Regions from separate parts of the Homo sapiens genome. Here region 1 is linked to region 2. A link means that fine-mapping ties the variant in region 2 to the expression of a gene that starts in the linked region. Tissue or cell type: whole blood. Region 2 holds a variant in brackets; the other region holds the start of a gene. All regions are shown on one strand. Distances are from middle to middle.

What was found.
Region 1: ZYG11B starts here. The variant in region 2 is fine-mapped to the expression of ZYG11B in whole blood (TOPMed, PIP 0.96).

Annotation. Positions count from the first base shown.
Region 1 is chr1:52,720,077-52,731,269 of GRCh38, forward strand. ZYG11B (zyg-11 family member B, cell cycle regulator) reads left to right here and starts at 6,377. Exons shown (of 14, transcript NM_024646.3): 1 at 6,377-6,607. The coding sequence starts at 6,578. RefSeq lists a silencer at 6,188-6,767.
Region 2 is chr1:52,699,430-52,710,121 of GRCh38, forward strand. It overlaps the pseudogene NDUFS5P3. Among named protein-coding and RNA genes, the nearest start is that of COA7, 6.4 kb to the left of the region's middle. RefSeq lists enhancers at 3,449-3,990, 3,697-3,996, 3,991-4,531. The variant C/A (reference allele first, on the strand shown) is at 3,908.

The sequences.
Region 1 (11,193 bases), 21 kb after region 2:
AAATTATCCTCCATAGAAGTTATCCCAATTACACTCCCAACAACAAAATATGAGCATACCTGTTCAACATCACCCCTCCTTTCCACACAGTATCTTATCAATCATAGATCTTTGCCAATCTGACAGATGAGAAATGGTAATTTCAAAGAAATTCTAATTTGCCTTTATCTTATTATTATAAGTAAGAGTGAGCATTGAAGAGCCATTTCTATTTCTTTTTCTGTGAACTATCAGTTCACATCTTTTGTGCATTTTTCCCCTTGGGTTTTGTTCTTATTGATTTCAGCTCTGAATACAAATATAAACATTATTCATTTTCCTATATGAAATGCATACATATATACATATAGTCATTTGTTATCTGACTCTACTTATGGTGACTTTTGCCTTACATTTTTTATTTCTACATAGCTGAATTTATCAATCTTTTCTGTTATGGCATCTTGGTTTTGTTTTGTACTTATTTATTTATTTATTGAGACGGAGTTTCCCTCTTTTGCCCAGGCTGGAGTACAGCGGCGCAATCTTGGCTCACTGCAACCTCCGCCTCCCGGTTTCAAGGGATTCTCCTGCCTCAGCCTCTGGAGTAGCTGGGATTACCACCATGCCCGGCTAATTTTTGTATTTTTAGTAGAGACGGGGTTTTGCCATGTTGGCCAGGGTGGTCTCGAACTCCTGACCTCATGATGTGCCCACCTCAGCCTCCCAAAGTGCTGGGATTACAGGCATGAGCCACCGTGCCCAGCTCTTGTTTTGTACTTAAGAAGACCTTCCTTACTTTAAGATTCTAAAAAATTCTCCCATGATTCTTTCTTCCAGTATGTTATGGTTTCCTTCTTTCTTTTTTTTTTTCTTTTTTTTTTTTTTTTTTTTTGTGACGGAGTCTCGCTCTGTCGCCCAGGCCGGACTGCGGACTGCAGTGGCGCAATCTCGGCTCACTGCAAGCTCTGCTTCCCGGGTTCACGCCATTCTCCTGCCTCAGCCTCCCGAGTAGCTGGGACTACAGGCGCCCGCCACCGCGCCCGGCTAATTTTTTGTATTTTTAGTAGAGACGGGGTTTCACCTTGTTAGCCAGGATGGTCTCGATCTCCTGACCTCGTGATCCACCCGCCTCGGCCTCCCAAAGTGCTGGGATTACAGGCGTGAGCCACCGCGCCCGGCGCTTCTTTCTTTTTTACTTTTTTTTTTTTTTTTTTTTTTTTTGAGACAGAGTCTCGCTCTGTTGCCCAGGCTGAAGTGCAGTGGCGCGATCTCGGCTCACTGCAAGCTCCGCCTGCCGGGTTCACGCCATTCTCCTGCCTCAGCCTCCCGAGTAGCTGGGACTGCAGGCGTCCGCCACTGCGCCCGGCTAATTTTTTGTATTTTTAGTAGAGACGGGGTTTCACCGTGTTAGCCAGGATGGTCTCGATCTCCTGACCTCATGATCTGCCCACCTCGGCCTCCCAAAGTGCTGGGATTACAAGCGGGAGCCACTGTGCCCGGCTTTTTTTTTTTTTTTTTTTTTGAGACGGAGTCTCACTCGGTCATCCAGGCTGGAGTGCAGTGGCTCGATCTTGGCTCACTGCAATCTCTGCCACCCAGGTTCAAGCGATTCTCTTGTCTCAGCCACCGGAGTAGCTGGGATTACAGCCGTTGCCTGTAATTTTTGTAGTTTTAATAGAGACGGAGTTTCACCATCTAGGTCAGGCTGGTCTTGAACTCCTGACCTTGTGATCCACCTGCCTTGACCTCTCAAAGTGCTGGAAGCCACTGTGCCCGGCCTAATTTTGTATTTTTAGTAGAGATGGGGTTTCACCATCTTGGCCAGGGTGGTCTTGAACTCGACTTCAAGTGATCTGCCTGCCTGGGCCTCCCAAAGTGCTGGAATTACAGGCGTGAGCCACCATGCTCGTTCTTCTTTTTTACATTTTAATATTTGATATATTTGAAATTTGTCTTGGTGAATAGTGTGAAGTATAAATCCAAGTTAAAATTTTCTAGATGTCTATCCAGTTATTCTAACACCAAATACAATTCCAACTTTTGCTTTCTGACTTGAAATGCTACCTTCAGTATTATACTAAATTCCTAGGTAATTTGGATGTATTTTTGATCTGTTTGTGCTTCATTGATTGCAAATCAAGCAAATCAACTGTGACTCCATTCTTTCTTGATTGCAGAACTCTTATTTATTTATTTATTTTTGGAGATAGGGTCTTACTCTGTCACACAGGCTGGAGTGCAGTGGCGTGATGATGCCTCATAGCAGCCTCGACCTCCAGGGCTCAGGTGATCCTCCCACCTCAGTCTCTTGAGTAGCTGAAACTACCACCATGCCCAGCTACTTTTTGGTATTTTTTTGTAGAGATGGGATTTTGCCATTTTGCCCAGGCTGGTCTCAAACTTTTGGTCTCAAACCATCTGCCTGCCTTGGCCTCCCAAAGTGCTGGGATTACAAGTGTGAACCACCTTGGCTGGCTAGAACTCTAATTTTTTTTTCTTTCTTTTTTTTTTTTTTTTTTTTTGAGAAGGAGTCCCTCTCTGTCGCCCAGGCTGGAGTGCAATGGAGTGATCTTGGCTCACTGCAACTTCCGCCTGCCGGGTTCAAGCGAGTCTCCTGCCTCAGCTTCCTGAGTAGCTGGGACTACAGGTGCGCACCGCTACACCCAGCTAATTTCTTTTGTATTTTTAGTAGAGATGGAGTTTCACCATGTTGGCCGGGCTGGTCTTGATCTCCTAACCTCATGATCCACCCACCTCAGCCTCCTAAAATGCTGGGATTACAGGCCTGAGCCACCACACCCAGCCCAGAACTCTAATTTTTAATGACGATTTTCCTCCACTACAAGGAAGTCCTTAGGGAAAGTAACTCACAGATCAGACGGAGAGTAAATCATGATTGGTCTAAGCTACTATTGTTGGTCCTATTCTCTTTGGTATTTATTGGCTTATCCATGGTACTTGAGGGGAAGTCTATTGAGTAACTACTAAGAAAAATTGTAGCTTACTAGACATATAAGGGGATATGTTTAGCTGGCAGTTAGATATTTAAGTATGAAATTCAGAATGCAGATATAATTTTGGGGTTATCACAGCATAGATAATATTTAAAGTAATGTGTTGGGATAAGATTATCAAGGAGTGTACATGCAAAAGACAAAAAGTCGAAATATTGAGCCTTGGGGTACTACAGTATTTAGAGGTCAGAGAAATGAGGAGAAACTAGGAGCAGCCAGTGAGATAGAAGACCCGAGGGGGTGAAATGTCATGGTAGCCAAGGAGGGGGAAGTAATGAGCTGTGTCTAGTGATGTTGGTAGGTCAAGTAACACGAGGACTGAGAATTGACTGGTGTCAGCAAATGGACACCACTAGTGACCTTGACAAGGGCATTTCAGTGGAGTGGAGGAGGTAAAAGCTTAACCAGAGAGGATCTCACCGAAAATGAGAAAAAGGAAGTCAAGGCCAGGCGAGGTGGCTCATGCCTGTAATCTCAGCATTTTGGGAGGCCAAGGCAGGCAGATTGCTTGAGCTCAGGAGTTCAAGACCAGCCTAGGCAACATGATGAAACCTCATCTCCACAAAAAATACAAAAATTAGTTGGACGTGGTGGCACATGCCTGTAGTTCCAGCTACTTGGGAGGCTGAAGTGGGAGGATTGCTTGAACCCAGGAGGCTAAGGTTGCAGTGAGCTGAGATCGCACCACTGCACTCCAGCCTAAGCAACAGAGTGAGACCATGTACAAGCCACCTTTGTGAGACATTTTGCAGAAAAGAGAATGGAGAAATGGGGCAGTAGGTGGGGGGTCAAGTCCAGTCAAGAGAGGGTTTTTTTTTTTTTTTTGAGGTGGAGTCTCGCTCTGTTGCCCAGGCTAGAGTGCAGTGGCGTGATCTTGGCTCACTGCAACCTAAGGAGGGTTTTTTTGTTTGATTGTTTTAAGATGGAAGAAATAAAATCATGTTGCTATAGCAATGAGAGGTAATAGCAGAAAAATAGCGATGTAGGTGAGAGGAAGAATTGCTGGATAGGTGTCTTTGAGAAAGTGACGTGGTATGAGACCTAGTACTTGAGCTCCTCAAAGTGTCATCAATGGACTAGTGACCATCTAGAAATGGTTTTTCACCAGTTTGTGACAGCAATTCAGAATTAATATTTTGAAACTTTTATAACAATTTGACAGAAAAATGTTACGCGTGTTGGGTTTAATAATAAAAATTCTGCCTAGAGTAGTCAAATTCATAGAGATAGAAAGCAGAACAGTGATGGCGAGGGATTGGGGGAAGTTAGGAATGGGGAGTTATTGTTTAATGAGTACAAGCTTTCAGCTTTGCAAGATAAAAAAGTTCTGGAGGCCTGGCACATTGGCTCACGTCTGTAATCCTAGCACTTTAGAAGTCTGTGGCAGGAGGATTACTTGAGCCTAGGAGTTTGAGACAAACCTGGGCAACACAGTGAGACCTTGTCTCTACAAAAAAAAAAAAAAAAAAAGGTAGCCAGGCGTGGTGGTATGTGCCTGTAGTTCTAGCTGCTTAGGAGGCTGAGGTGGGAGGATCGCTTCAGCCCAGGAGTTTGAGGCTGAGTGAGCCGTGATTGTGCCACTGTACTCCTGATGGGTGACAGGGTAAGAACTTGTCTCAATAAATAAATAAATAAATAAATAAAAGAAAAAATAAAAAGTTCTGGAGCTTCTTGATGGGGATGGTTGCACAACAATGTGAATGTATTTAATACCATTGAACTGTACACTTTAAAATGGTTAAGCAGGTTTAAAAAATCTGGGCTTGCATTTTGGATGCTTGTTTTTAAATTTTAATTTTTTCTAGTAATTAATTTTGATTGTATTTTACAGAAATTTAGTTTTGTGATTGGGGATAAAATCTGGGTCTTTTAGCACAGATGCTTGAGAACTGAGGAGGATTTGATGTTAGCTAAAAGACAAATAATTAACTTGTAGTAAGGAAAGGAAGGCAGAGAGAGCATCAAAGCAGAGTTACAGGTTCGTTGGAAGTCATGGTGGGTGCTGGGAACTTGTAGATGTTCTTTTTGGTTTGTTTGATTTTCTTGTGAATTAGAAGCAAAATCATCAGCTAAATGAGATGAGGGAGGAAGTGTCGGAGGTTTGAAGAGACAGGAGACTTGAAATAGTTATGTAGCAAGGTGGGAGAGTGTGTGAAACTGGAGAAATGTGGTAGGGTAGCCACTCATTATGGCCTCTTGAGAATAATGATCTCAAATTTACGGGGAGTCAGTCAACCACTTTTGGCTTTTTCTCCACCCACTCCATTGCTGGAGTTCTGTCAGTACAAAGAAAGCAGAGAACGACTAGAGAAATGAAGGTAATACTGAAGAAATCGACTTCATGTACCTCATGTACTCACTTTCTTCCCCAAACAGCTTAGATTCTATTAGATTCCATTTCATGACGGACGATAGAATCTAAGCTGTTTCAGGAAGAAAGTGAGTACATAAGGCCAGCGTGGGGAGGAATAGCGAAAAGGTAGTTGGATCAATGGATTTGGGGTCTTGGAGTTGAAGTTTTTGGAGTTGGAGTATTATCAGACAGAGTGAGCTAGAAAGGAAGAAGGTTGTGGCCGGGCGCAGCGGCTCACGCCTGTAATCCCAGCACTTTGGAAGGCCAAGGCAAGCGGATCACCTGAGGTCAGGAGTTCGAGACCAGCCTGGCCAACATGGTGAAGCCACTTCTCTACTAAAAATACAAAAATTAGCCGGGTGTGGTGCCGGGTGTTTGTAATCCCAGCTACTCGGGAGGCTAAGGCAGGAGAATCACTTGAACCCGGGAGGTGGAGGTTGCAGTGAGCCAAGATCGCACCACTGCACTCCAGCCTGGGCAACAAGAGCGAAACTCCATCTCAAAAAAAAAAAAAAAAAAGAAAGAAAGAAAGAAAGAAAGAAAGGAAGAAGGTTGCAATGGGAGTTAGAGGATTAAAATTGAGATTGTAGAGAAGTTACAATTATTCGTATGAGCATGAGAGTGAGAGGCTGAGCCAAGAATGATCCCTAGAGAAGAATCTGAGAGGCCAGAGGATTGGAAGAATTAAGCGAATTTTGAAATAACCAAGAGTTATGACAATAGTAGTAATGAATGACAGTGAACCAGAAGCCCAAATCTTAGAGAATGATGGTGAATGACAGAGGAGTCTATAGGTGACCGAAGTGAGCGATGCTCTAATCTCTCGTCATGATGTAATATTTAAAGCTTTTCATATTTTGAAGGGATGCTAGGATTTGGGGGTGTGTGGCTCCTTTAAGGGCCTGGGAGGGGGAGAAGCTGGAGGTCGGGCTGGGGGGGGCGGGACCCCCTCGTCTGAGTCTGCGCATTGAGAGCGGAGGCGGGTCCAGGCGCGGGCTCGCGCGCCCGGGCGGGTCCTCGCGGGGGCGGAGTCTGCGCTCTGGTTCGGGCTGCGGCTGCGGCTGCGGCTGCGGCTGCTACTGCTACGCTCCTAGCTTGAGGGAAAGAGGCCGAGGCCTGGGCCAAGCCCGGAGCCGCCGCTCGCCGGAGCCTCCTGGAGCCTCCGCGCCGGCTCAGCCTGGGGGCGGGCTCCGGTCCGGCCCGCCGCCGCACCCAGGACGGAGGCTGCATGCCCGAGGACCAGGCCGGCGCAGCCATGGTGAGGGAGCAAGGCCTGCCCTAGCCGCAGCCGCCCGCCACCCTAGCCCCCGCCCGTCGCGCTGGCCCCTGCGGTCTTGCCCCTCCCTGTCTCTGGTGTCCCCTCGGGCTCCCTGCCTTTACCTCTCTCCCTCGTTACCGCCCCCTCGGTGTTCAGCTCCTCCTTCCCCATTCACCTGCTTCGGTGAACCCCTTTAGGTGACACCCCCTGAATCTCCCTTCTCCCCGATGACATCCTTTTTATCACCCCCAGTGACAGCCTTTTTCGCATTCCCTTTGTCGCCCACTCCTTGTCCTTTAACCCTAACCCTTCCTTTCTTTCTCCTCTATCATTTTGCCTTTTTTCCTCTTATGTGATTTTTACTTTCCCCCCTTTCCTCCCTAGTTTTCGCTGCTCTTCCTTGCTCTTCTCACCCCTCTTCACCATTTTATCTCCACTGCCCCCTTCTCTCCGTGTTCCTTCTCCCCTTCGTCCTCTTCCATCCACGTTTCCTCTTCCCTTATCGGATGTCCTCGCTCGGTTCGCCGTCGCAGCTGTCCCCATTTCCTTCTACGGGCTTCAGGGGTCTAAGCAGGAACAATTTGAGGACTGTTGCTTCCCGGGAGCTGTAGGGCGGGCAGATAGGGATTTATAGGTTTGCTTCTTCCTTTTCGTTTTTGGAGGCATTGAAGAGATCCTGGAAGCCTATTCACCTAGTGTCATTGCAAAATCGAAGTGGTGGTGTGTTACAGAGCAGTGAAGTGAGGGCCAGCATGCATACTGTGACCTCAGGAGAGATCTAGTCTTTTGACAGAAATAGCTAAAAAATGTTTTGAATTTTTTTTATTTTGAGCATCTTTTAATGTGGAGGTGCAGTTGGAGAAGTTTAAAAATACTTATTTACAAGCTTGGCTATTATTACTAAAAACAAATGATTTGTTTTCATTTGGAGGCAGAGACCAAGGGCATTTGAGGACTGACAATCAGGTTGGCAGGTTGTGACAGTCTCTTTAAACCTTCTAAAGAGTTCATTTGTTTTGCCCTGTCTGCCTTTAGTTGGGAGAACCTTATATTTGCAAATTTTCTTTCTGTCTGAAAATAGGTTGAGGCTTCAGTTGGTTTTTTCATTGAGTTGGGTTATAAGTGGTTTGCTGTACATTTATTGAAAACATTGCTCCATCATATGCAACAAGCTAAATTTTGGTCTCTGGGAGGAATAAGGCAAAACTAAGTCCTGATAATTATGTTCCCCTAGGAGGTTAGTCAGTTTCTTTTTTTCCCTCCAGCAGTTTTTTAGAAAAGTAATATACTATAAAATTATTTAATCTATGAATTTTCCCTAACTCACTCCTGCATTTTTAGTCTGTCATTTTCCTGTGTTTGTCTCCTTCACTTTCACACACTGTTGTTGTATGCTAACCTGTTTCTCCCTGTGGAATGTAAGTTCTAGGTAGCAACCGTTCCTTACTTATTATTCCAAGTGCCCAGGCCAGCTAGGTGCTTGAATGATTCACTTTATGGTCTCATTTCCCACCTGACTAATATAAACTTAAACTGAAATTTGAGGTAACTAGTGGACTACACAGAAAGAGTGAGTTTGAGAATTGTTGTTTGGAGACGATCTTGCTCTGTGGCCCAGGCTGGAATGCAGTGGCACAATCATGGCTCTTTGCAACCTTGAACTCCTGAGGTCAAGTGATCTTCCCACCTCAGCCTCACAAGTAGCTGGTACCACAGGCACGGACTACCGTGCCCCGCTAATTTGTAAAACTTTTTGTAGAAATGGAGTCTTGCTGTGTTGCCCAGTCTGGTCTTGACCTCCTGGATTCAAGCCATCCTCCCACCTTGGCCTCCCAAAGTGCTAGAATTACAGGCATGAGCCATCACGCCTGGGCAGAGAATCTTAATTTTGATGCAAAAATGATATTGAGTGAGGTATGATGATATACTTTTCAGAATAAAGAGCTATCCTACCTAAGACATTACACTGCTAGATTTTTGAAAGTGTGGGCCCTTCCATTGAGAATGAATGTATGAGAGGGAGGAGTTATGAACTCCCCTTTGAGGTATTTAGGATCTAAAAGTGTCCTTTGAGCTGGGCCTGAAAGTTGAATAGGATTTATATAGATCATTTTGGGAAGGGGAAGAATGCCTCATTGTGAATGTGAGTAGCAAGTAGAAAGGATCCCCTCACAGGGATTTTTTTTTTTTTAAGAAAGAAAGTAGGAAGGAATTAGGATGCATTGTAGGAAGTAGTATTACCCTTATATAGCATGGAAGGATGCAAGAATGGAGATGTGTAGTAGGAAATGAGGCTAGCAAGATACTGTCTTAGCCCATTCAATCTACTGTAACAAAATACCATAAACTAGGTAGCTTGTCAGCAACAGAAATTTATTTCTCAGAGTTTGGAAGGCTGGGAAGTCCAAAATCAGTTCCCCAGTGGATTCAGTGTCTCGTGAGGGCTCTTCCTAAGTCACCTTTTCACTGTTTTCACACATGGTGGCAGGGGCCAGGCAGCTCTCTGGAGTCTCTTTTATAAGGGCACTAATCCCATTCATGTGGGCACTAACTGGTGATCTAATCACCTCCCAAAGGCCCCACCTCCTCATACCATTACCTTGGGGGTTAGGATTCCAACATATGAATTTAGGGAGACAGAATTCAGACCACAGCAGACATATTAGGCATGATTATGTTTTAAACTTTGCATCTAATTAACTTGATTTTTCCTTGCTTGTTAAAACATATACACACAGAGTAACAGTGTATGTATGGGAGAGGTGAGGAGAAGGCAGAATATTAGCTTATTTTGAGCTAGGAATTATCAGTAGAGGCCACTTTCTCGTGCAATATTTTTGTAGATAATAAATACAGTTGAATGAATGATTATTATAAAGCTTTGTATTTTATATTTGTTAAATGTTAATTAGGTTGTGTTTGAATAGTTGAGATGTTTAAGATGTCAGGAGTTCGAGACCAGCCTGGCCAACATGGCAAAGCCTCGTCTCTACTAAAAATACAAAAATTAGCTGGGTGTGGTGGCACATGCCTGTAATCCCAGCTACTCGGGAGGCTGAGGTAGGAGAATCACTTGAACCCAGGAGGTGGAGGTTGCAGTGAACTGAGGGCAGGGCCTGAGAGGTGGCAGTTCTTTTTTTTTTGAGGCAGGGTCTTGCTCTGTCCCTAAGCTGAAGTGCAGTGGCATGATCACAGCTCACTGCAGCCTTGACTTCCCAGGCTCAAGCGATCCTCTCACCTCAGCCTCCCAAGTAGCTGGGACCACAGGTGCCCATCATCACACCTGGCTAATTTTTATATGTTTTGCAGAGATGGGGTTTCGCCATGTTGCCTAGGCTGGCCTCAAACTCCTGGGCTCCAGTGATCCTCCTGCCTCAGCCTCCCAGAGTGCTGGAATTATAGACGTGAACTACTACAAAAGTTTGCATTTCTGTCAAAACCCACATAATGCTGATGCTGCTGGTCTGTGAACCACAATTTGAGAACTACTGGTCTAAGACATAGTCCTTACTTTTAATTAATCTAATAATGTTTTTGGAGTGTCTTTGACTGTGTTGACACTGGGGAAATGACAGATAGTAAAATAGATGTGACCTCTGGCATTTTTCATCTCATGTATATAGAGTAATTTTATTTTATTATGTATTTATTTATTTATTTTGAGATAGGGTCTGGCTCTGCCGCCTAGACTGGAGTGCAGCGGCGTGATTACGGCTCATTGCAGCCTCAAACCCCTAGGCTCAAGCAGTCCTTCCAGCTCAGCCTCCCAAGTAAAGCTAGGACTTCAAGTGTGCTCTATTATGTGCAGCTGATTTTTTGTTTTTGTGTAGAGAAGAGATCTCCCTGTGTTGGCCAGGCTGGTACCAAACTTCTGGCCTCCAGGGATCTTCCCGCTTTGGCCTCCCAAAGTGCTGGGATTACAGGCACAAGCCACTGCATCCAGCCTTCATACAGTAATTTTAAATGTGAAGAGTTTTAATATATCTTGAGTGTGCTGAAAAAGGACAAGTTGATAGCTGGGCATGGTGGTGCATGCCTGTAGTACCATCTGCTCTAAAGCCTGAGGTGGGAGGCTCACTTGAGCCCAGCAGTTCAAGGCTGCATTGAGTTATGATCATGCCACTGCACTCCAGCCTGGGCAACAGAGCGAGACCTCATTAAAAAAAAAAAAAAATAGAAAGGAAAGAAAAGAGAAGTTGTGGAATAATGGAATGGAATAGTTAGGAGTAGCTTTGCAGAGGGTCTTACTTTCAAGTAGAGAACTGAGGGATTAAATTGTAGGAGTTATGTAAAGAATAGTCCAGATAGGCTGGGTGCAGTGGCTCATGCCTGTAATCCCAGCAGTTTGGGAGGCCGAGGTGGGTGAATCACCTGAGGTCAGGAGTTCAAGACCAGCCTGACCAATATGGAGAAACCCCGTCTCTACTAAAAATGCAAAAATAAGCTGTGCATGGTGGCAGGTGCCTGTAATCCCAGCTACTCGGGAGGCTGAGGCAGGAGAATTGCTTGAACCCGGGAGGTGGAGGCTGCAGTGTGAGCTGCGATTGTGCCACTGCACTCCAGCCTGGGCAACAGAGTGAGGCTCC
Region 2 (10,692 bases):
CGAAATTGTGCCATTGCATTCCAGCCTGGGCGACAAGAGCGAAAAAGAATGAATGAGGTAGAAAAGGAACATGTCAAGGAGATGGGGAGGAGGAGAGGAAATTTACCTACATTTTGCTTTGTTTTCCTGCTCCTGTTCCTGCTAAGAATCATCAGTTCCATAAAGCTTAGATGGAAAGTTCTCCTAAGACAGCCACTTCCTATTCGTCTTTTTTTTTTTTTTTTTTGAGACGGAGTTTCGTTCTTGTTGCCCAGGCTGAAGTGCAATAGCGCGGTCTCAGCTTACTGCAACCTCCGCCTCCCAGGTTCAAGCGATTCTCTTGCCTCAGCCTCCCGAGTAGCTGGGCTTACAGGTGCCCACCACCACGCCCGGCTAATTTTTTTTGTATTTTTAGTAGAGACAGGGTTTCACTATATTGGCCAGGCTGGTCTTGAACTCCTGACCTCAGGTGGTCCGCTGGCCTCGGCCTCCCAAAGTGCTGGGATTACAGGCGTGAGCCACCACACCCGGCTGACTTCCCATTCATCTTTGAATTCCATCCAGCCCTACTTTTGAATTCTCAATGGAGCTAAATCCATGGCTTCCCATCGCCTATAACAATGCTTTCCAAATGGCTCCATTATTAAGCTATCCCCAATGGCAGCAAAGAATGGACTATTTCCAACCACTTATTTATTGGAAGGCAGCCAATAATGTCTGAAATCCCAGTTTTATTTTTTAAATTCATAGGATTTTACATTCATTTCCCCATAATACATCTTTCATAGGATAACAGAAGATTGCCTTTTCTCCCCCAAGCCTTTGAGTAAAATTGACATTCCAGGCAATATACCACATTTACCTGTGGTTTCTTATACCCTGATCACCTTAGGGGACTCCTCAGTACACATGGCCCAGGATGGGAATCCTTGAACTTTGGTTTGAGGTCATCTTCTTTAGGATGGCCTTCAAGACCCTGTGCAATCTGATTCTAGCCTTATTTTCTGCCTCTCTTCCCCCACATCCCACCAACCTTCTGTTCTCTGAATAGATCCCAAGTTTGTGTCCCTGTTTACCTCTGCTCTTGATGCCTGGACCACCCTTTTTGACACAAATCGGAAATACTCTCCTATGTAAAGTCTTCCCAGACACAACAATTACACACATTCAAATTAGATTTAGATGCTCCCATTTTGGTGTTCCACACCACTTGGTTTATTCTGGTATAGTGTAGTAGGAAAGAAAGAACTGGCTTTGGAGTGGGGACAGATCTTAGTTCAGAATCCATGTTCCATGTTTATTAAATTGTAACCTTAAACCAATCATGTTTGTGAGTCTGAATCCTCTTCTGTAAATGCAGATCCATTTGTAATGGCTGTCAGAAGGACTACAAGTTCATGTATGCAATGTGCTTGGCAGAGCGCCTGGCTCAAAGTCATTCCTGTTCCAGGAATGTTTCTTGTCATGCCAATAATGGCATGAAAGTCTGTGTTCCCCACCAGACTGTGACCTCTGTGTCCTGTATGCTGGTCACAGGGCCAAGAATAGAATAGGGCTTGATGATAGAATAGAGCAGGGTGATGTCGATTACTAAAATCTGGGAATGTTTCCCTTTATTTTCTGAGTTGAACTGCATTGAAATGAGATCACCTGAGCGGTAGAGGGCACAAGAGAGTTAGTTGGTGATGAGAGGCTCAACCAAGTAAGAGGTCACTTTTTTTTGTTTTGCTCTTTCATCCAGGCTAGAGTGCAGTGGCGTGATTTTGGCTCACCGCAACCTCCGCCTTACGGTTTCAAGCAATTCTCCTGCCTCAGCCTCCTGAATAGCTGGGATTACAGGCGCCCACCACAATGCCCGCCTAATTTTTGTATTTTTAGTAGAGATGGGGTTTCACCATATCGGCCAGGCTGGTCTCGAACTCCTGACCTCGTGATCCGTTTGAACTAACTGTTGCCTCTGCCCTAGAGTGCTTTTCCCCTGTATTTTTTTTTTTTTTTTGGCTTGCCTTCTTAAGTTCTCTGCTTCAATTTGACATCGTCCATGTGGTCTTAGCTCATTCTTGTTATAATAACAGTGTCTTGATTGTGCCCAGCAATATTAGGTGCCCAAGTATTGTTGACTGAATTAAGAAGAGGGATTATCATTCCAAATAATTTGGTTTTCATTAATGGAACTTAGAATATCACTGACTCTTGCTCTTTTGACCCAGGTTTTTCTTAAAGCTATAAGAAACATTAAATGAAGGTCTAATTGACATACAGGAAACTGCACATAACTTTAAAGTAACAATTATGAGTTTCTACATATGTATACACCTGTAAACCATTATCACAATCAAGATAATGAGCATATTCATCACCTCAAAATTTCCTCATGTGACTTTGTACTTCATTCCCTCCCCAGCAACCATTAATCTGCTTTCTGTCACTGAAGATGGGTTGCATTTTGTAGGATATTATCTAAATAGAATGATACAGTAAGTACTGTTTCTTTTTGTATAGTTTCTTCGATTCAGCATAATTATTTTGAGATTCATCCATGTTACCACACGTATTAATAGTTCATTCTTTTTCTTAGTGAATGACATTTCATGATGTAGATATATCACAATTTGTTTATCCATTTGGGTTTCCAGTTTTTGGCTTACAAATAAAGCTGCTGTGAATATTTGTGTACGTGTCTTTGTATGGGCATTCATTTCCATTTTTGGGGTTCATACCTAGGAGTGGAATGGCTAGATCATATGGTAGGTATATATCTAACTTTAAGAAACACCCAAACTGTTTTCTAAAGTGATTCTACCATTACATTCTTACCAGCAGTGTTTGACAGTTCTAGTTGCCCTACATCCTCACCATAATTTGATGTGTGGTCAGTCTTTTAAAATTTTAGCCATTATAGTGAATATAACAGTATCTTATCATAGGTTTAGTTTGTATTTTTTTGAGTGACCAATAATGTTGGCATCTTTTCATGTGCTTATCTGCCATCTGTGTATCTTTGATGACATGTTTGTTAAAATCTTTCGCCCCCTTTTTATTGGATTGTTTTTTATTATTGCATTCTAAGAGTTATTTATATATTCAAGTCCGTTATCAGAAGTTTTGCATATATTTTCTCCCAGTTTGGCCTGCCTTTTTTGTTTTTATAACAGTGTCTTTCAAAACCAAAAGTTTTTCATTTTAATGGTGTGTCTAGTTTATTGATTTTTTTCCTCTTGTTAATAGTTTGTGCTTTTTCTTTCGTATTCAAGAAGTCTTTGCCAAACCCAAAGTCACTAAGATTTTATCCTATATTTTCTTGTAGAAATTTTATGGTTTAAATCTTATATTTAGAAAGCCTATGATCCATTTCAGATTAATTTTTGTATGAGGTATGAGATAACAGTTGAGGTTCACTTTATTGCATGTGGGTTTATAATTACTCTAGCACCATTTGTTAGAAAGATTATCCATTCTCGGCCTCCCAACGCGTTGGGATTACAGGCGTGAGCCACCGCTCCAGGCCTCGGGATAGGTCTTAATACCTCCTTTTTATAAAGGAGGTCCAGATAAGTAAAGTGATTTCCACCAGGTCACACAGCCCGCTAAACCTCTCCCAAAGGGTTACACGTTGGTAAAGGAGCCGCCCCGTGAGAGAGACCGGACCAATCACGTTTGCTGTGAGGTCACTTTGGAGGCCTGAGATTGGTGCTCGTGTCTAAACGGACCCGATCTTTCTGAGTGGCTGGTGCAGCTGAGGGAGGTTCCAGGTGGCTTGCTCGGGGGCTGCCCAGCTCGCCGTCCTCTGCAGATCCCCTCGGGACTCTCAGCATTTTGTGGGTTAGCCGTGGAGACGCCCTGCCCTTCCTGCTTTGGCCAGTCAACCCCCTCAAGCCCGTGCCCGTAGAGCCTGCAGCCCTTCCTCACCTCATCACTCCCCATCCCC[C/A]CAAGATATAGAAAGGCCGTGACAGCTGCCAGCCCTGCACATGCTCTTGTTTCAACAGCGGCGATTGCACATCACGTAGTCCCCACGTGACCTGTCGGGCCTAGGGCAAGCGCAAAGCTTTCGGAAACCCGAATTATTGCAACCTTGACTTCCTGCCTGTCTCTGAGGCTCCCGGGCTGTGCTTTAAGCTGGACAGGCACCTGCTTTACAGGGAAAAGGACCAAGGTCCGGAGAGGAAAGGGGCTTGTCCCAGGATACGCAGCAAGTTAGTGACAGCGTCATACTCTTCCCTCTGGGCAGGCACCTGTAGTCCCAGCTACTTGCGAGGCTGAGGCAGGAGAATTGCTTGACCCCAAGAGGCAGAGGTTGCAGTAAGAAGAGATCACACCACTGCACTCCAGCCTGGGTGACAGAGTGAGATTCTCTCTCAAAAAAAAGGGCCAGGAGGCCGGTGTGGTAGCTCACACCTATAATCCCAGCACTTTGGGAAGCTGAGGTGGATAGATCACCTGAGGTCAGGAGTTCGAGACCAGCCTGGCCAACATGGTGAAACCCTGTCTCTACCAAAAATACAAAAATTAGCTGGGCATGGTGGCGGGTGCATGTAATCCCAGCTACGTGAGAGGCTGAGGCAGGAGAATCACTTGAACTGGGGAGGCAGAGGTTGCAGTGAGTTGAGATCGTGCCATTGTACTCCAGCCTGGGCAACAAGAATGAAACTCCATCTCAAAAAAGACAAAGAATAAAATTAAATTAAATTTTAAAAAGGCCGGGCATAATGGCTCATGCCTGTAATCCCAGCACTTTGGGAGGCCGAGGCAGGTGGATCATGAGGTCAGGAGTTAAAGATCAGCCTGGCCAAGATGGTGAAACCCCGTCTCTACTAAAAATACAAAAAAATTTGCTGGGCGTGGTGGCATGTGCCTGTAATCCCAGCTACTTGGGAGGCTGAGGCAGAGAATCACTTGAAACCGGGAGGCAGAGGTTGCAGTGAGCCAAGATCGTGCCACTGCACTCCAGCCTGGGCGACAGAGTGAGACTCCATCTCAAAAAATAAAAAATAAAAATAAAAAAAGACATTTGCTGGAAATAAGCACTGGAATAGAGGTTTCAATACTAATTACTGTTCTGCCACTTCCATAGTGTTTGTTCAGCTTTGGCTAAATCCATTCTCTTTTATTCTCTTTTTATATCCTCAGTCTTCTCATCTGTAAAATGGGACTCCCAATCTCTACCCCACCTTGATGCTGGGAAAAGACAAACCAACCTCAATACCGAAGTTTAAAGGGTGTTTTACATAACCATGAAAATGTTGTCTTGGCCAGGTGCTGTGGCTCATGCCTGTAATTTCAGCACTTTGGGAGGACAAGGTGAGAGGATCCCTTGAGCCTAGGAGTTTAAGACCAGCCTGGGTAACATAAAGAGACCCCGTCTCTACAAAAAATAAAAACATTAGCCAGGTGTGGCAGCATGTGCTTGTAGTCTTAGCTACTTGGGAGGCTGAGGCGGAAGGACTGATTGTGCCCAGGAATTTGAGACTTCAGTGAGCCATGATTTTGCCACTGCACTCCAGGTGGGATGACAGAGTGAGACCCTGTCTCAGAAAAAAAAAAAATTACCTCTCAAGAAGAACTGCTGAAAGCAGTGAAGGAAATAAGGTTTGTATATCTCTTTGCAAACCTTAAAACACTGTAAAAATTAGGTAGCACACTATTTCTAATGAGATAACTTTTTTTCGGGGGGGGGGGGGGGGCGGAGTTTTGCTCTTGTTGCCCAGGCTGGAGTGCAATGGCGCGATCTTGACACACTGCAACCTCTGCCTCCTGGGTTCAAGTGATTCTCCTGCCTCAGCCTCCTGAGTAGCTGGGATTACAGGCATGCGCCACCACACCGGCTAATTTTGTATTTTTAGTAGAGACAGGGTTTCTCTATGTTGGTCAGGCTGGTCTCAAACTCCTGACCTCAGGTGATCCACCCGCCTTGGCCTCCCAAAGTGCTGAGATTGCAGGTGTGAGCCTCCGCGCCTGGCCCTAATGAGATAACTTATAGAACATTGTATGACTTACAAAGGCTGGACCTCAGACTACACTTTGAGTACCCAAGAACTAAATCCTTGCTACTCAAAGTGTGGCTTGAGGAACAGCAGCATCCATATCATTTGAGATCCTAGTAGACATGGAGAACCTTGGGACCCCCACCACACCTACTGAACCAAAATATGCATTTTAAAAGTTATTATTATTTTCTTGAGATGGAGTTTTGCTCTTCTCACCTAGGCTGGAGTGCAATGGCACAATCTTGGCTTACTGCAACCTCCGCCTCCCAGGTTCAAGTGATTCTCCTGCCTCAGCCTCCTGAGTAGCTGGGATTACAGGCATGTGCCACCACGCCCAGCTAATTTTTGTATTTTTAGTAGGGACAGAGTTTCACCATGTTGGCCAGGGTGGTCTCAAACTCCTGATCTCAGGTGATCCACTTGCCTTGGGCTCCCAAACTGCTGGGATTACAGGTATAAGCCACCGCACCCGGCCTAAAATTATTATTATTTTTAGAGACTGGGGTCTCATTATGTTGCCCAGGCTGGGCTCAAGCAATCCTCCCACCTCAGCTTCCCAAATAGCTGGGACTACAGGTGTGAGCCACACTGCCTGGCCAGAATATGCATTTTACTGAGATCCCCAGGTGACACAGATACACAATAAACTTTAAGAAGCAATGCTGTAAATCACAGGATACATGCACTGGAATGATTTTGAAAATAATCTTCAACTCCCTCATTTTACAGGTGAGCGCACTGAGCCCAGGAATGAAAGGGACTTGTCTTTCTAAAAGAGCTGTGTCACCCCCATTTGGAAACCAAAGGCTCCACAATGCCCGCATCCTTAGCTCAGCATTCCAGGCCCTCCCATCTGGCCCCCGCCAACCACTCCACTTGCTACTTCCCCACCTATACTAGACAAACCAATCCCTCTGACCCACTCCTCTTCTCTGAACTCCTCAGGCTGTTTTGTCTGTGTGGGCTGCTCTTTCCACGTCTCTCCAGTGTCAGTTCAAACTATGTTGCCCGACCACCAGTCCTTGTCTAGGATGCCTTCCTAACCCCTACTGGTTGACAGTGGGCTGTGGTTAGCCAGCTGAGGGCTCCTCCACTTCCTGAAGCACTGTGGTCATCGCCTGTTTTACCAGACTGGGAGCACCTTAAGGATAGGAACCAAATATGATTTCTTTATTTGCCTTCCAGGTCCCAACACAGAGTGAAGCACTTTGTAAGTGCTCCGTTTATGCTATGTGGTTAATAACTTATAACAATGCCTCCAGATCTAATTTTTTTTTTCTTTTTTTTTGAGATGGAGTCTCATTCTGGCCCCCAGCCTGGAGTGCAGTGGCGCGATCTCGGCTCACTGCAACCTCCACCTCCTGGGTTCAAGCAGTTCTCTACCTCAGCCTCCTGAGTAGCTGGGATTACAGACACCCACCACCACGCCCGGCTAATTTTTTTGTATTTTTTTTTAGTAGAGAGGGGGGTTTCACCATCTTGGCCAGGCTGGTCTTGAACTCCTGACCTCACGATCCACCTGCATCAGCCTCCCAAAGTGCTGGGATTACAGGCATGAGCCCCCGCGCCCGGCCAACTTTCTGCTTTTAAGACTATGAAATCCCAAAGAGTAGGGACCTGATATTCTCTGCCTGCTCCATCTCATTCATGAGACTCACGTGCCAGAGCACAACGGGCATGTGTTCACCACCTAAGCTGGCTGGCTCGGCTTCTGATTATAGCCATTCCCATAATGTGTGTGTGGACCCAGCTCACTGCAGCATGCTCATGGAAATCCAAATGAGGAAGAAGGGTTGCAACACCAAGGACAAGGAAGGGATCAGGTTTTAGGACAAATCATCTCAAGTCAGGGGTGAGATTTACTGCCTTCTAAAAAAAGCTCACAAGATTTCAGGCTGTGACCCCAAAAGTCTATTCCTGAGCCCTCCTGCCTGCACATAAAAACTGACACAGTGAGGTGCTCAGCCCATGTTGTTGAGTGAAAAAACTAATCTGGACTTCTAAATGTAACCAAATACTGACTGTCAGAAAAAAGCAGTTGTGCCAGTAGAGAACTGGAACTAAATGTCACATGGCATTAAAGTCTACGCCCCTAACCTTTGGCCACAAACCTTGCTATCCGCCCCAGCCTGCCTTTCCAGCTTGTTCTCTTCCCTCCCATACACACTCTTTGAACCTCATCCCAAATTATTTGTTGACCCTATAAACATCACCTGCTTTCACGTTCCAGTGCCTTCACACATGTGATTCCCTATGCCTAGAATGCTCTTCCCTCTCCGTTAATTAAGGTAATTATTTTTCCTTCAAAACCCAGGTCAAGGCCAGGCACGGTGGCGCACGCCTGTAATCCCAGCACTTTGGGAGGCCGAAGCGGGCAGGTCACCTGAGGTTGGGAGTTCGAGACCAGCCTGACCAACATGGAGAAACCTTGTCTCTACTAAAAATACAAAATTAGCAGGGCATGGTGGCACATGCCCATAATCCCAGCTACTTGGGAGGCTGAGGCAGGACAATCGCTTGAACCCAGAAGGCGGAGGTTGTGGTGAGCTGAGATTGTGCCATTGCACTCCAGCCTGGGCAACAAGAGCGAAACTCCGTCTCAAAAAAAAAAAAAAAACCAACAACAACAACAACAACAACCCAGGTCAAGTAGTGCCTGTTTCAGGAAGCCTGCTCTGACCACTGACTGCCCCCACCACCAGGCTGGTTGCCTCTGTGCTTTAGCAAGTGCTCTGCTTCCTTTTTTTTTTTTTTCTTTTTTGAGACAGGGTTTCACTACGTTGCCCAGGCTAGAGTGCAGTGGCTATTTTACAGGCATGACCATAGTGCACTGCAGCCTCAAACTCCTGGACTCAGTCTATCCTCCCGCCTCGGCTTCCTGAGTAACTGAAACTACAGGCATGAGCCACCACACACAAACATGCTTCTTTTTATAAGAGTACTTACCATGTTCTTTTTCTGTTGTCTTCCTTCCCTTCCTACTAGACTTGAGTACCTTGAGGGCAGGGCCTGGGTTTTATCTATTTCTGTGTCCTCAGTGTCCAGCACACAGCATGACACAAAGGAGAGGTATTTATTGAGCACATGCCCAGTGAAAAGAATGTGCAGTAAAAGAGTTATCATCAGTTAGGGAATTTACTCCCACACTGCCAAGGAATTCCTAGTTTAGGAAAGGCTCTTTTTGTTGGAGAATAAATTATTTACAAGCATCTGACCTCCTAGGAAAAGGCTAGAACAGTGAATAGTAGATGACAGGTGAGAATGACTAGGGAAGTATAATTTTATCACCATTCCAAAACACACATACATTGTTCCTGGTAGATGCATAATCTGTAGGAGATGGACACAGCACCCTCTTATAGAAGAGTCCCCTGGGCCGGGTGTGGTGGCTCATGCCTGTAATCCCAGCACTTTGGGAGGCCGAGGTGGGCGGATCACCTGAGTTCAGGAGTTTGAGACCAGCCTGGCCAACATGGCCAAACCCCGTCTCTACTAAAAATACAAAAATTAGCCAGGCATGGTGGCACACACCTGTAGTCCCAGCTACTCGGGAGGCTGAGGCAGGAGAATCACTTGAACCCAGGAGGCAGAGGTTGCGGTGAGCCAAGATCATGCCACTGCACTCTAGCCTGGGTAACAGAGTGAGACTCAACCCTGTCTCAGAAAAAAAAAAAAAAAGTGGGGGGGTGGGGGCCAGAAAAGAGACAAGGGCATAAGCATTGGATCGCCATGCCTTTCTTGGATGTGCTGAAAAGGTTCAGCCTTAACATAGATTGATGGTGGACAATCCAAAGTGCTGAACAGCCCTACAAGATTCCTGCTCGATGCCAGGCTTTTCAAAAAGAATGGATAGAATGTGCACATGGAATCGTTAGTATCCAGGCAGAGAAGGAGTGCAAGATAGAATATGATGATTTTGTAGAGTGTATACTTTAGCAGAAAACGATGAGACGTCTGAGTACCATTAGGAAGCAGCGGGATAAGCTGATAAAGGAAGGGAAGTACACCCCTCCACCTCACCATGTGGACAATGCAGAGCCTTGGCCCTGAACAGAGCAGCTGCTGATGTCTGGAGGCTGATTTTCCTGTTCTCTGTTCTCCACTGGAAAGGTTGTTTACAGAAAACCTCCTTGTCAAAGTGTGTAAAAATAAAGGATTGCTCCATTCCCCACCCCCCAAAAAAATAATGTCTAGCTTGCAGGATTTGCAGGAGGATTTTATAATAATAGCCAATGCTTATATAACAGTTATATCTTGCCAAGTCCTATTTTTTTCTTTCTTTTTTTTTTTTTATTTTTTGAGATGGAGTCTTGCTCTGTCGCCCAGGTTGGAGTGCAGTGGCACGATCTCTGCTCACTGCAACCTCTGCCTCGGGGGCGCAAGCAATTCTCCTGCCTCAGCCTCCTGGGTAGCTGGGACTACAAGTGTGCACCACAACGCCTGGCTAATTTTTGTATTTTTAGTAGAGATGGGGTTTGGCCCTGTTGGCCAGGCTGGTCTTGAACTCCTGGCCTCAAGTAATCCACCCTCCTTGGCCTCCCAAGTTCTGGAATTATATAACTAAGCCACTGTGGCTGGCCTTGCCAGGTCCTATTTTAAGAGCCTTCTATATGTAATAGTATAAATATATAGTAACTCAGTTAATCTGCTAGATGCTATGAGTTAAGTAAGATTATCACGCCAATTTTATAGGTAAAGAAACAGACACGGCTGGGTGTGGTGGCTCATG